Regions from separate parts of the Homo sapiens genome. Here region 1 is linked to region 2. Evidence: fine-mapped expression QTL. Tissue or cell type: whole blood. Region 2 holds a variant in brackets; the other region holds the start of a gene. All regions are shown on one strand. Distances are between the middles of the regions.

The links. PIP is the estimated chance that this variant, and not a neighbour inherited with it, causes the effect.
Region 1: it holds the start of CDCP1, and the variant in region 2 is fine-mapped to the expression of CDCP1 in whole blood (TOPMed, PIP above 0.99). The same link has a PIP of 0.9 or more in T cells and blood mononuclear cells.

The regions. Positions count from the first base shown.
Region 1 is chr3:45,143,278-45,148,502 of GRCh38, reverse strand. CDCP1 (CUB domain containing protein 1) reads left to right here and starts at 2,125. Exons shown (of 9, transcript NM_022842.5): 1 at 2,125-2,297. The coding sequence starts at 2,216.
Region 2 is chr3:45,103,721-45,108,945 of GRCh38, reverse strand. All of the region lies in intron 4 of CDCP1 (CUB domain containing protein 1), which reads left to right. Among named protein-coding and RNA genes, the nearest start is that of CDCP1, 40 kb to the left of the region's middle. The variant A/G (reference allele first, on the strand shown) is at 2,980.

The sequences.
Region 1 (5,225 bases), 40 kb before region 2:
AAGTTATCCACCCACCTTGTCCTCCCAAAGTGCTGGGATTACAGGCATGAGCTACTGCACCCAGCCGAAAATTTACCTTTCAATCTCTCATTTCTCTCTAGCACTAGATTATAGTTACCTACGTTGCTTTCCAGTTCAGAAATAACCTTTTAAAATTTACTCCTTCCATTCAGCCATGTTTGTAAAGACAAAACATGTCCATTCTTGGCAATGCTTTGTTCACACTCCACTTGGAGGACCAGGACAGTATGTCAGGACATCTTTACTTCAACTATGTAGTTGGGTTGTCACGCAAAGGATGCTGAAGTGCCTCCCTATTTTCTTCTTTCTCGTTGCTGCTACTTTCTGGAACCACCACCAATGCTTCATATTTGGGAATTAGTGACTCTCATTCCATTTTCAGAAAGCTGGTGTCAACTATCCCAAGAAAGACAGTTAAGCAAACTTTGGAGAGACGAAATAGTAAGGAAATAACTTGTTCCTTAGGCTTAACTTGTCAAGCAATATTTCTGATATTTTGCATTCAATACACTGCCATTCTAGTACTGTTGTGGGTATTACTGTATGTGGGAAACAATGGTGTCATGGATGTTAGGAAAAGATGCTGGGATATATATGCCTGCTTAGAATCAGGAGAAAAGACAAATCTCCTTTCACCCTCCTGGTCAGCATAAATATTTTTAAAGATTGTTTAGATTTTTGTCAAGATTTCTTTCTCTTGATGAATTTGTCCTCGATTCAGTGGGGAGAACCAAGAGCCTCTCTTCGTTTCTCATCCTCTCCCTTCCCTCTAGTTCTCAGTTTTCCCATTTTTCTGCACAAGGACAGAAGTGGACTAGAAGATTACATCTAAGGTCCCGTTTAGCTCACGATACAGGCCCTCCCAGAGGTGGGGGTGTGGGCAGGGTCATGTTCCAAGTTCTGCCTCCCTCGATGGACTGTGGGCTCCCAGAGGGCAGAGCTAGCTCTATTCTCATGATTAAGGACATCGAGAAGGAAGGGGTGACGCTCCTAGGAGATGATTTCCCACCCCTGTCCACAAGGAGGATTGGGGCAGCCTGGAGAGGCTCAGTGCCCGCAAGAATTAAGCAGAAGTTGGGACTGGACTGTAAACTGATGCTGTCGCACATGCTTTGGTTCCTGTCCCAAGCCTCCCAGGTTGCTCCGGGTGACTCTGGCCCAGCTTCTGGCTATCCATGAACACAAGTAGTCCCAGGGAGTCATTCTGGCAGAACCCAGGTCTGCTAGCTAAGAACTCCTGAACCATCCGCAATCTCTGCCTGTGGCCTGGACTTGGTGTATGGCCGGCAGGGTGGAAGGAGAACCCACAGGGCCTCTGAAGACAGGCAGGTGGCACACCTGCGGCTGGGAGGATTTGGAAAAGGAGTCCAGCGCCATTCATTTTTCATTCATTTTCCAGCCCAACGTTTGACCTGAATGCTTCACGCTCACACTGCACACACTACTCCATTTATAATACAACTCGAGAAGGGCACATACTACTCCATCCACAGCTCAGTGAAGGGATGCATACTACTCTACTCACAATTCAACGAAGTGGTGCATCTGCCTCTAATTTACTAGCTACCCTGGGGACCTTGGACACGTTGCGTGTCTGGAAATACTGCAGGTGATGTGTGTGGAGTAGGCTGCAGGCTCACCGTCCTGCAAATACTAGCTGTACCACCACCGGCTTTAAAGTCCAACAGACCTCTGGCCCAAGTCAAGTAGCAGAGGATCCAGGGCTTGGGTGGCCCACAAATAGGATTCTTCTCCAAAACGAGGCGCATAATGGCCTTTGTCTCCTCGACAGAAAAGGGAAGGTAGACTGGCTTCCTCTATGGGCGACCTTCGCGACTCTGGAGAAAAAGACCTCATCATTCTCAGACTTGGGAAGGAAGACTAAGCCCGGAAAGGTGGGGACAAGTCCGCTCCAACGCCGCAATGGGGAGTAGTAGGGACCCAGCAACCCGGTGCCGGGAGCCCTGCACCCTGGGAGGGAGAGGCGGTCGCTGAGGCAGGAAGAGGAGGAGGAGAGAGAGGAGGGACGCACCGGGTCAGCTCGCGATCCTGCTGCGCAGGGCGGGGCTCGGGCCGGTCCGCCCGCGCGCAGGTGAGTGAGCCAGGGCGGAGCGCAGCTGCGCCGGGCTTGGGCGCCTGGGGCCGCCGCTCCCCACCGTCGTTTTCCCCACCGAGGCCGAGGCGTCCCGGAGTCATGGCCGGCCTGAACTGCGGGGTCTCTATCGCACTGCTAGGGGTTCTGCTGCTGGGTGCGGCGCGCCTGCCGCGCGGGGCAGGTGAGTGCCGGGCTTTGGAGGCGGATGGCGTGGAGTGGTGAGCTAGCCAGCCAGCGGACGCCCGGCGGAGATGCGGCCGAGGGACGCAGGGTGCGGAGGGTGCGGAGGGTGCGGAGAGAGGGCGGGGACGGCGTAGTCAAAATGCGCGGGTGGCTCCGGGACCCCCGGACTGTTCGGTTCCTGCGCGCGCCGCGTCGGGCGCGTGGGCCTTGCCCTCCTGGAGTCAACCTTGCCCTCGGCACGTGAGAGTGTCCCCGATCGGGGAGCCTCCCGGTCCGGGAGGATGAGCCCGGTGCTGGCCGAGAAGGCGGGAAAAGGAGCTCCCGGTAGCCGATCCCAGGCGACATGTCCAAGGTGGCGCGCCGTGCGCCCCAGGGTCTTTGCCGGGATTCTTGAAAGCACCCAGGCAGGGTGTGGGAAGAGATCTTTCCTCTCCAGGCTCGCCCTCTACCTCCTCGCCTGGTCCAGAGAGAAGGTGCAAAAAAAGTGCTTTCACGTCCGCATTTCCCACTAGATCCCCTTTTTCCCGTCCGCACGCTGCATTCCCCCTCTCCTAAAGTTGAAGAGCGTTGGTGCAAAAATGAAAGCGCCCGGATTTCTTTTAGGGGGTCCCAGAGAAAGCCGCCAGGCATCTGCGCCACCGCAGAGACTGGACATTCCCGCGCCCCTCGCACTTTTTGGCAGTGGACTTTGAGGGCAGGAGGCTGTTGTTCCGGGGATATGTGTGAATTTCGAGTTGTTTCGGTTGGGGGAAGGGACCAACACGTCCCAGTGACCTGTGCCAGCCAGGAAATGCCCTGTGGGCCCTGGATGTATTAGAACGTAGTAAATAACCTGGTTTCTTCATGTAAGAACTTGATGTGAGGCTAGTACAGGTTTCGCGAGATTAGTACAGGTTTTGTGTTTTTTAAATAGAGCTCTCCAGGAAGCCATGTGGGTTTGATTCCCCTTGCTGCATCTAGGGTGGATTTGTGTTTGGCAGGTGTAAATTAGATAAAGGAATAAAAGGACGCAAGTGAGGTTGAATTTGGGCGTCCCGGTGACTGCCGTCTTTACAAATACAAGACAGGAGCTTCTAAAATATCAATATAAGCTCCAGGAATACTTCCTGGTTCATTCTCCAACATCAGGTGACATATTGCTGCATAGTAGATAGAAAATTTAAAACTTCATTTAAACCATGGCATGGATTTATAAATATATATATAAATTATATATATTAAAGTAGAGACAGGGTTTCACTGTGTTGCCCAGGCTGGTCTCGAGCTCCTGAGCTCAAGTGATCCTCCCACCTGGGCCTCCCAAAGTGCTGGGATTACAGATGTGAGCCACTGTGCCTGGCTGATGAATATTTACTATAATTTCTTAGGACTGAATTTCCAAGATTCCCTTTGAAGAAAAAGAATTAGTTTAAGAATAAAAAGGAAGTGAAAATATGTGTATATGTGTGCTGAGAAAAATGCGTGCCTACCAGTCTTGGAACAGTATTGAAACTCTGGGAATTATCTGAGATGTTTTTGGCTTTCTGTGACAACAGTGGGGAACTCTTCCAGTCAGAACAGGGTGTTAATCAAGGCATTGCTAATAATGAGAGCCTCTGTTCCTGGTCTCATTTCTCCCTGTGATCTGGGAAGGCTGCCATTTTGGTCCAGTAACTCCAATGGAGTCCCTTCCAGGAAGTCCTTGACTGGCTGAGCCCTGTCTCATGGTTCAATACATAAATACGTAGAAACCTAGGAACTTTCCCTTTCGCTTTCTTAAGTTCCTCCCTATGGTCTCAGGAACTGGCCCTTTGAGGGTACATCAGGCTGAACTGAGAGCTTTTGTGGTTGGAGTAGTTGCCTGTAGTCTTGAGGATCTAAGTGGCAAAGGCCTTTGAGAAATTCCTGGAGACTGTCCTGAAAGGATACAGAAAGCCAGAGCCCTGGCACAGTGGATTTGTTTTATAAATCCATGAAGTCTCTTAACAAAGAAAGACTCAGCAGAGTAAAAATGAATTTGGTGTCACTGCAGAGATGAAAAGTAAAGGAAAGTTTGTGTCTTGGTGTCGTGTGTTTGTGTGACTTTGGTATCCCCACCAACTCCCCCATTTCCAAGAGTGAAACACTGGTTACATTGGGATCATAGCCTTTTGAAAACCTCCATTTGGTTGCTTTCTAAGAACCACTCAGATACCAGAGTCTGGGTCAGTGACCCCAATCTTGCCACCATTGTCTCTTGCCAAAAATGTGAGCAGACAGATCAAATGATATATTCACACTCCCTGGGTGAGTGTGGGTGTTCATTCTGTTTCCGATTCAAATGAGGAGCTACTGGCTGTTGTCTGGAATGTGTAACTGGTAGCGCTGATGAGTCTCCCCCATCTCCTCCCCCACATCCCCACAGATTTGCATGACTTGGAGTCAGACCTGTTAGCCCTAGGGCTCACCTCAGATGCTGCCATTTCATCTATGATGGTTGCACGCCTTGCATGTGCACACACACACTCTTCTGGGTGTTCTCCCTGGCTATCAATATGGGGGAAGGAAGTTAATAATTAAGATGTTTTAAGTAGCATATAGTTATTGTAGAAAAAGTGGCAATAAATATAACCAAAATGGAAAAAAATTATCTATAAGCAAACTGCCTTATTCACTTTGATGCAGTCTTCTTAATGTGTATGTATGCACGCTCATGTGCACAAACCAAAAATGGGATCATCCCATTGTATGGCTTTAACCAGTCCCCAGTTGTTGGACATTTAAGTTGCTTCCAGTTTTTCTTATTAAAAATAGAACACGTCCAACAATAGCCAGCTGCTTGTATCAATTTTAATAGGTCTATTCAGTGAAAAGGCACTTGAAATTACATAGCACAGACTAGAAAATGACATGAAAGGATGAACCATTATCCTCATGTTGCCAAGGTTATAAAATGGTATCAACTGGA
Region 2 (5,225 bases):
TATATATATGTATACATGCATATATATATATATGTATACATGCATATATATATATATGTATACATGCATATATATATATACATGCATATATATGTATACATGCATATATATATATACATGCATATATATGTATACATGCATATATATATATACATGCATATATATGTATACATGCATATATATATATACATGCATATATATGTATACATGCATATATATATGTATACATGCATATATATATGTATACATGCACATATATATATAGTGTGTGTGTGTGTGTATCCATTGAGACATTTTTATGATTCCACTGTCACAACTGTACAATCAGAATGTTGAAAACAGCCACAAAAGGATTTAGAAATGGAGTGGGCTTGGGGTTTAGAAGACAGGGGGATTTGTTTATCACCTCAGTCATGGTGGAATGCTGCTTAGAAGCTCTGATTAATTCTGCTAACTGTAACATCAGCTGGGTTGATTTCTAAAACTAATCAAATTGTTAAACGTGCTATAAACAGCATCAAGAAGGACATGGATTTAGTGCTGAGATTAAAGGGCAATAACTGCCGTTGAGAGGTGTTTAGCAGTGTCAAGCCCTCTAACTTTGCACTGTTTCTAGCGGAGTGAGTGGACTTGGCGGCAGAAATATCTTTGGGGATAAATTTAGGTTGGGCTGGACTGCCTGAGAACTCTGATCTCTGGGCAGCTTCATCTTGATCCTCTGAACCTCTATGTGGACCCTAAATTTCAAGGGCTAGCCCAAGGAAGCCAGTCCTGTGCCCCTACCTGTTTGTCTGACCCATTCTTTTTTTTTCTTTTTTTTTTAGGCAGAGTCTTGCTCTGTCACCCAGGCTGGAGTGCAGTGGCGTGATCTCGGCTCTCAGCTCACTGTAACCTCCACCTCCCAGGTTCAAGCGATTCTCCTGCCTCAGCTTCTTGAGTAGCTGGGATTACAGGCGCCTGCCACCACACCCAACTAATTTTTTGTATTTTTAGTAGAGATTGGGTTTCACTATGTTGGCCAGCCTGGTCTTGAACTCCTGGCCTCAAGTGATCCACCCGCCTCGGCCACCCAAAGTGCTGGGATTACAGGTGTGAGCCACCACTCCCAGCCCTCATTCTTTATTCTCTCTCATTTGCTAAGTGTTTGTAGGCAGCTTGTATTGCTGGCAGCATAGCCCCATTAAGGATAATGACCTGGAGTTGGCCTGCATGGATTTGAATCTGGTTCCCCCACTTACTTTGACCATGGGCAAGTCACTTCACCTCTTTGTGACCCAGTTGCTCATCTGTAAAGTGGAAGTGGTAAGACTGTCCTCATCGGGGTGTTGTGAGGACAGTGTGAGGTAGCACAGTGCCTGGCAGGTAGTGAGCGCTCTTTAAATGTTTCCTGCAGGGTTCTAGGTCAAGGCAGGCATGCAGGGTTAGAAAAGACACAACACGGGCCGGGCGCGGTGGCTCATGACTGTAATCCCAGCACTTTCAGAGGCCGAGGTGGGAAGATTATAAGGTCAGGAGTTTGAGACCAGCCTGGCCAATATGGTGAAACCCCATCTCTACTAAAAATACAAAAAATTAGCCGGGCGTGGTGGCAGGCACCTGTAGTCCCAGCTACTCAGGAGGCTGAGGCAGGAGAATCGCTTGAACCCGGGAGGTGGAGGTTGTGGTGAGCCAATATTGTGCCACTGCACTCCAGCCTGGGCAACACAGCAAGACTCCATCTCAAAAAAAAAAAGAAAGAAAGGAAAGAAAGACACAACACTTGTTCAAACAAAGAGATTAGACTGTGGCTCCAGAAATGATTGGTAGGATGCAGCAAGTCACTCATGGAAGGAATTCCAATGGCATGTGGTGAGGTTGGAGGCAGGAGAGTGGACCGCAGCTGGTAGGAATACTAAGGGGAGACTCTGGGCAGAGTCTGGCCCTTCTCAGGCTGTGCAGGAGGCCCCATCTGTGCCAATGGTGTGTGCCGCTCATGATCACTGGAAGAGCTCTATGTGCTGCTCCTGCTTTCTTAGCCTTGGAGGTGAGAAAGAAGCTGAGAGAGGGGCCTCAAGGTGACTGAGTTTTGGGTCAGAGCCTCTGCCCTTGCTTCTCCTGTGAGTGCTAGAGGAAAATCTCCTGGGGCTAGTTTCCCCCTCGACCCCTTCACTGCTGCACCTCTCTGAGTCCAACCCAGGCTTTGCCCTAACTTGACCTTCCTTTGTCCCCAGAAGCAGGGGAACAACTACCCAGACCAAAGCCACTACCCCAGGAGTGCACTTGTGGGTGGTTTGCATTCTTCACACAACATGGATTTATCTGTCTCCACGTCTGCATCTTACTAAACTCCTCCCAGTCAGGAATCTTGTCTTATTGCTCTTTCTATTCCCACCACAGCTTCCGACACATTCCAGGCCCTCCATAAATCCGTGTTGCACCAATCTCAGGAGTCAGCATCTTTTCCAAAGTGGCTCAAGAGCCAGTTGCACCATAAGAACCCACAGCCCATCTGAAGGGGCAAGGCAGATACAGTGAAGTGGGGCACCCATGAGAGCAGCTGCTTGGTGGTGGGGCAGACAAGGAGAAGGGCATCAGAAATAAGAGCAAAGGCAGAGCCTGGAGACCTTCTCAAACCAAAGTGCAACCATAGAAAGCCAGAGCCTCAGCAGGGGTGGAGAAAGCTGTGAGAGGCACCAGCCAGCCCAAACCCCTCATTATCTACAGCAGGACCTGAGCACAGTGGGCCCAGGCTACAAAAAAACAGACAGGTGTTACCTTGAACCTAATTGTCCAAAAAACAAGATAAAAATATCTACCATCAGTCCTCTCTACTTTGCTGAGAAACATCAGGTAGGTTCAAACTAGACCCAGAGAACTCCTGTAGGGAGTATTTTTCCATGGCTTGACCACAAACATCCTGTGTTTTGAGTCATGTACAATTACCCAGGAACTGAGGAATAACTGATGTGGCCATCCGTGACCACATCTGTAAGCAGTGAT[A/G]GCTTCAGCTGCCCACAGTGTGCAAACCACGGGTGTCTGAGAGCTCAGTTCATGTTCACCTCTACCACACAAATCTTGTTTTTAAGTGCTCCACAATGCACCCTCTCCTTTCTTTTTTGATATCACAAGATTACCATGTCATGCCTGATGTTATTACCACTTTCACCAGGCAGCCTGTTTCTCTCTTTGTATAATTTCTAAAGGTTCAAGTGGCCCTGCTGATAATGATTATGTGAGTTAATGGTACAGTATTCTACCCATCTATATTATATTCTACCCATCTATATATCTACCCATCTATAAGGCTTTAGGGAGAGCCTTCTAGCCTACTAGCCTACTGCTTTATGCATCCTCTTCTAGCTTTTGGAAAATCTGTTTGCTTTCCTGAAAATACCAAACAAACTATTATCTTCAAAACCCATGGGCTTCTGGGTGATCATGAGTCACATACGACAAGCAGATGTGCATTTCCAGTGTGTTACACAGGACGCTTTGTTAACCACTCTGGGTGAATGCTGGTTGTGGAAGCAGATACATTGCTCCTTTTTTGGCTTTTACAACCTCCAGAAGCCACCTGGAACCTTAAATAATTATTGGATTTGTTTTTGCTTCTTGTTTTTTGTTTTTGTTGGGTAACTTGTGTTCCATGAGTCTTAAATTTGTCCTGCTGAGCTGATAGGTATTATGGCCTTTGACTTACTCCCATTGAGTCCATTTCCAAAAAAAATTGTCTATCTATAGATACCACAAAAATGATTAGGGGCCTTTATGAAACATCAGTCAGTAACCCAATCCCTTCAAAGGTCCCCAGTGTGGCTTTTACAACAGTGTCAATAACTATTAAATAGTGAAGGGTTTTCTTTTGGTGGCAGGTGGGGGTTAAACATCAGGCTCAAATGTTTTGTTTGTTTGTTTTTTGAGACAGAGTTTTGCTCTTGTTGCCCAGGCTGGAGTGCAATGGCACGATCTTGGCTCACCGCAACCTCCGCCTCCTGGGTTCAAGCGATTCTCCTGTCTCAGCTTCTCAAGTAGCTGGGATTACAAGCCCACCATGCCCAGCTAATTTTGTATTTTCAGTAGAGACAGGGTTTCTCCATGTTGGTCAGACTGGTCTCAAACAATCGACCTCAGGTGATCTGCCCACCTCAGCCTCCCAAAGTGCCAGGATTACAGGCGTGAGCCACCACACCCAGCCTCAAATGTTTTTTATATGAAGGCATCTGCAATGTTGTAGAAAAACTATGGGATTCTTTCAAGGCAGGAAACTGTGTCCAGATCACAGATCTGCCCCTTTATTAGGGAACATTGAGCGGTTAATTTGCAACCTTCTCAGCTGTAAAATAACAATAGTCATTCCTCCTTCCCCCCATGTTGTGAGGGTGAGATAAGGCAACTTGTCAAAGCACACAGACCTCACTGAGTAAAGATCTGTCTTGTCTTTCCATAGATTTATGAATGTTAATAGGTAATTTTACATTTAAAACACCCATCTGTGAGAGATAAGGGCTGCACATTTCCACCCTGTTTTGCCTGCTGAAGCCACATATGAAAACATTCTGTAGGCAGCAGGGAAATTAACTGTGTCTACCCCTCAGGTTCCTCAGGTTATTTTGAGATCCAACCAAAAGAAGTGTGGAAAGAAATGTGTAAAATGACTAATGAATGAGGTGCAAATGCAAAATAGAAAGTGGAATGAAGTGTGATATTACAGAGAGCCTCCTCATAACGGGCAGTCTGTCTTGCCCCCAGAATCAATAAACTGGGCTTCTGTTTTAGCTGGGACATGAGGTATCTCACCACAGTCCACCTGATTATTATACAGTAATTTTCAAAAGAAATATAAACTGTAAAACCACAATAGTGTTTCACACCCACTAGAATAGCTAAAACAAGAAAGGCTGAGAACATCAAATGATGGTGAGAATGGACGGCAACAGAACTCTTATGGAGTGCTCCTGGGAGTGTCAAATGGTGTGACCACCTGGGAGAATTGTCTGGCAGATTCTTATGAAGTTAAACTTACACCTACTCTCATAGTCCATTTAGTGTTGCCATAACAGAATACCTGAGACTAGGTAATTTATAAAGAAAAGAGATTTATTTGGCTCACGATTCTGGTGACTGGAAAGTCCAAGAAGCATGGCACCAGCATCTGCTCAGCTTCTGGTGAGAGCCTCTTGCTGTGCCATAATATAGCAGAGGAGTGGCAAGGGAAACGGGCATGTGTGAAAAAGATGAAAACATGA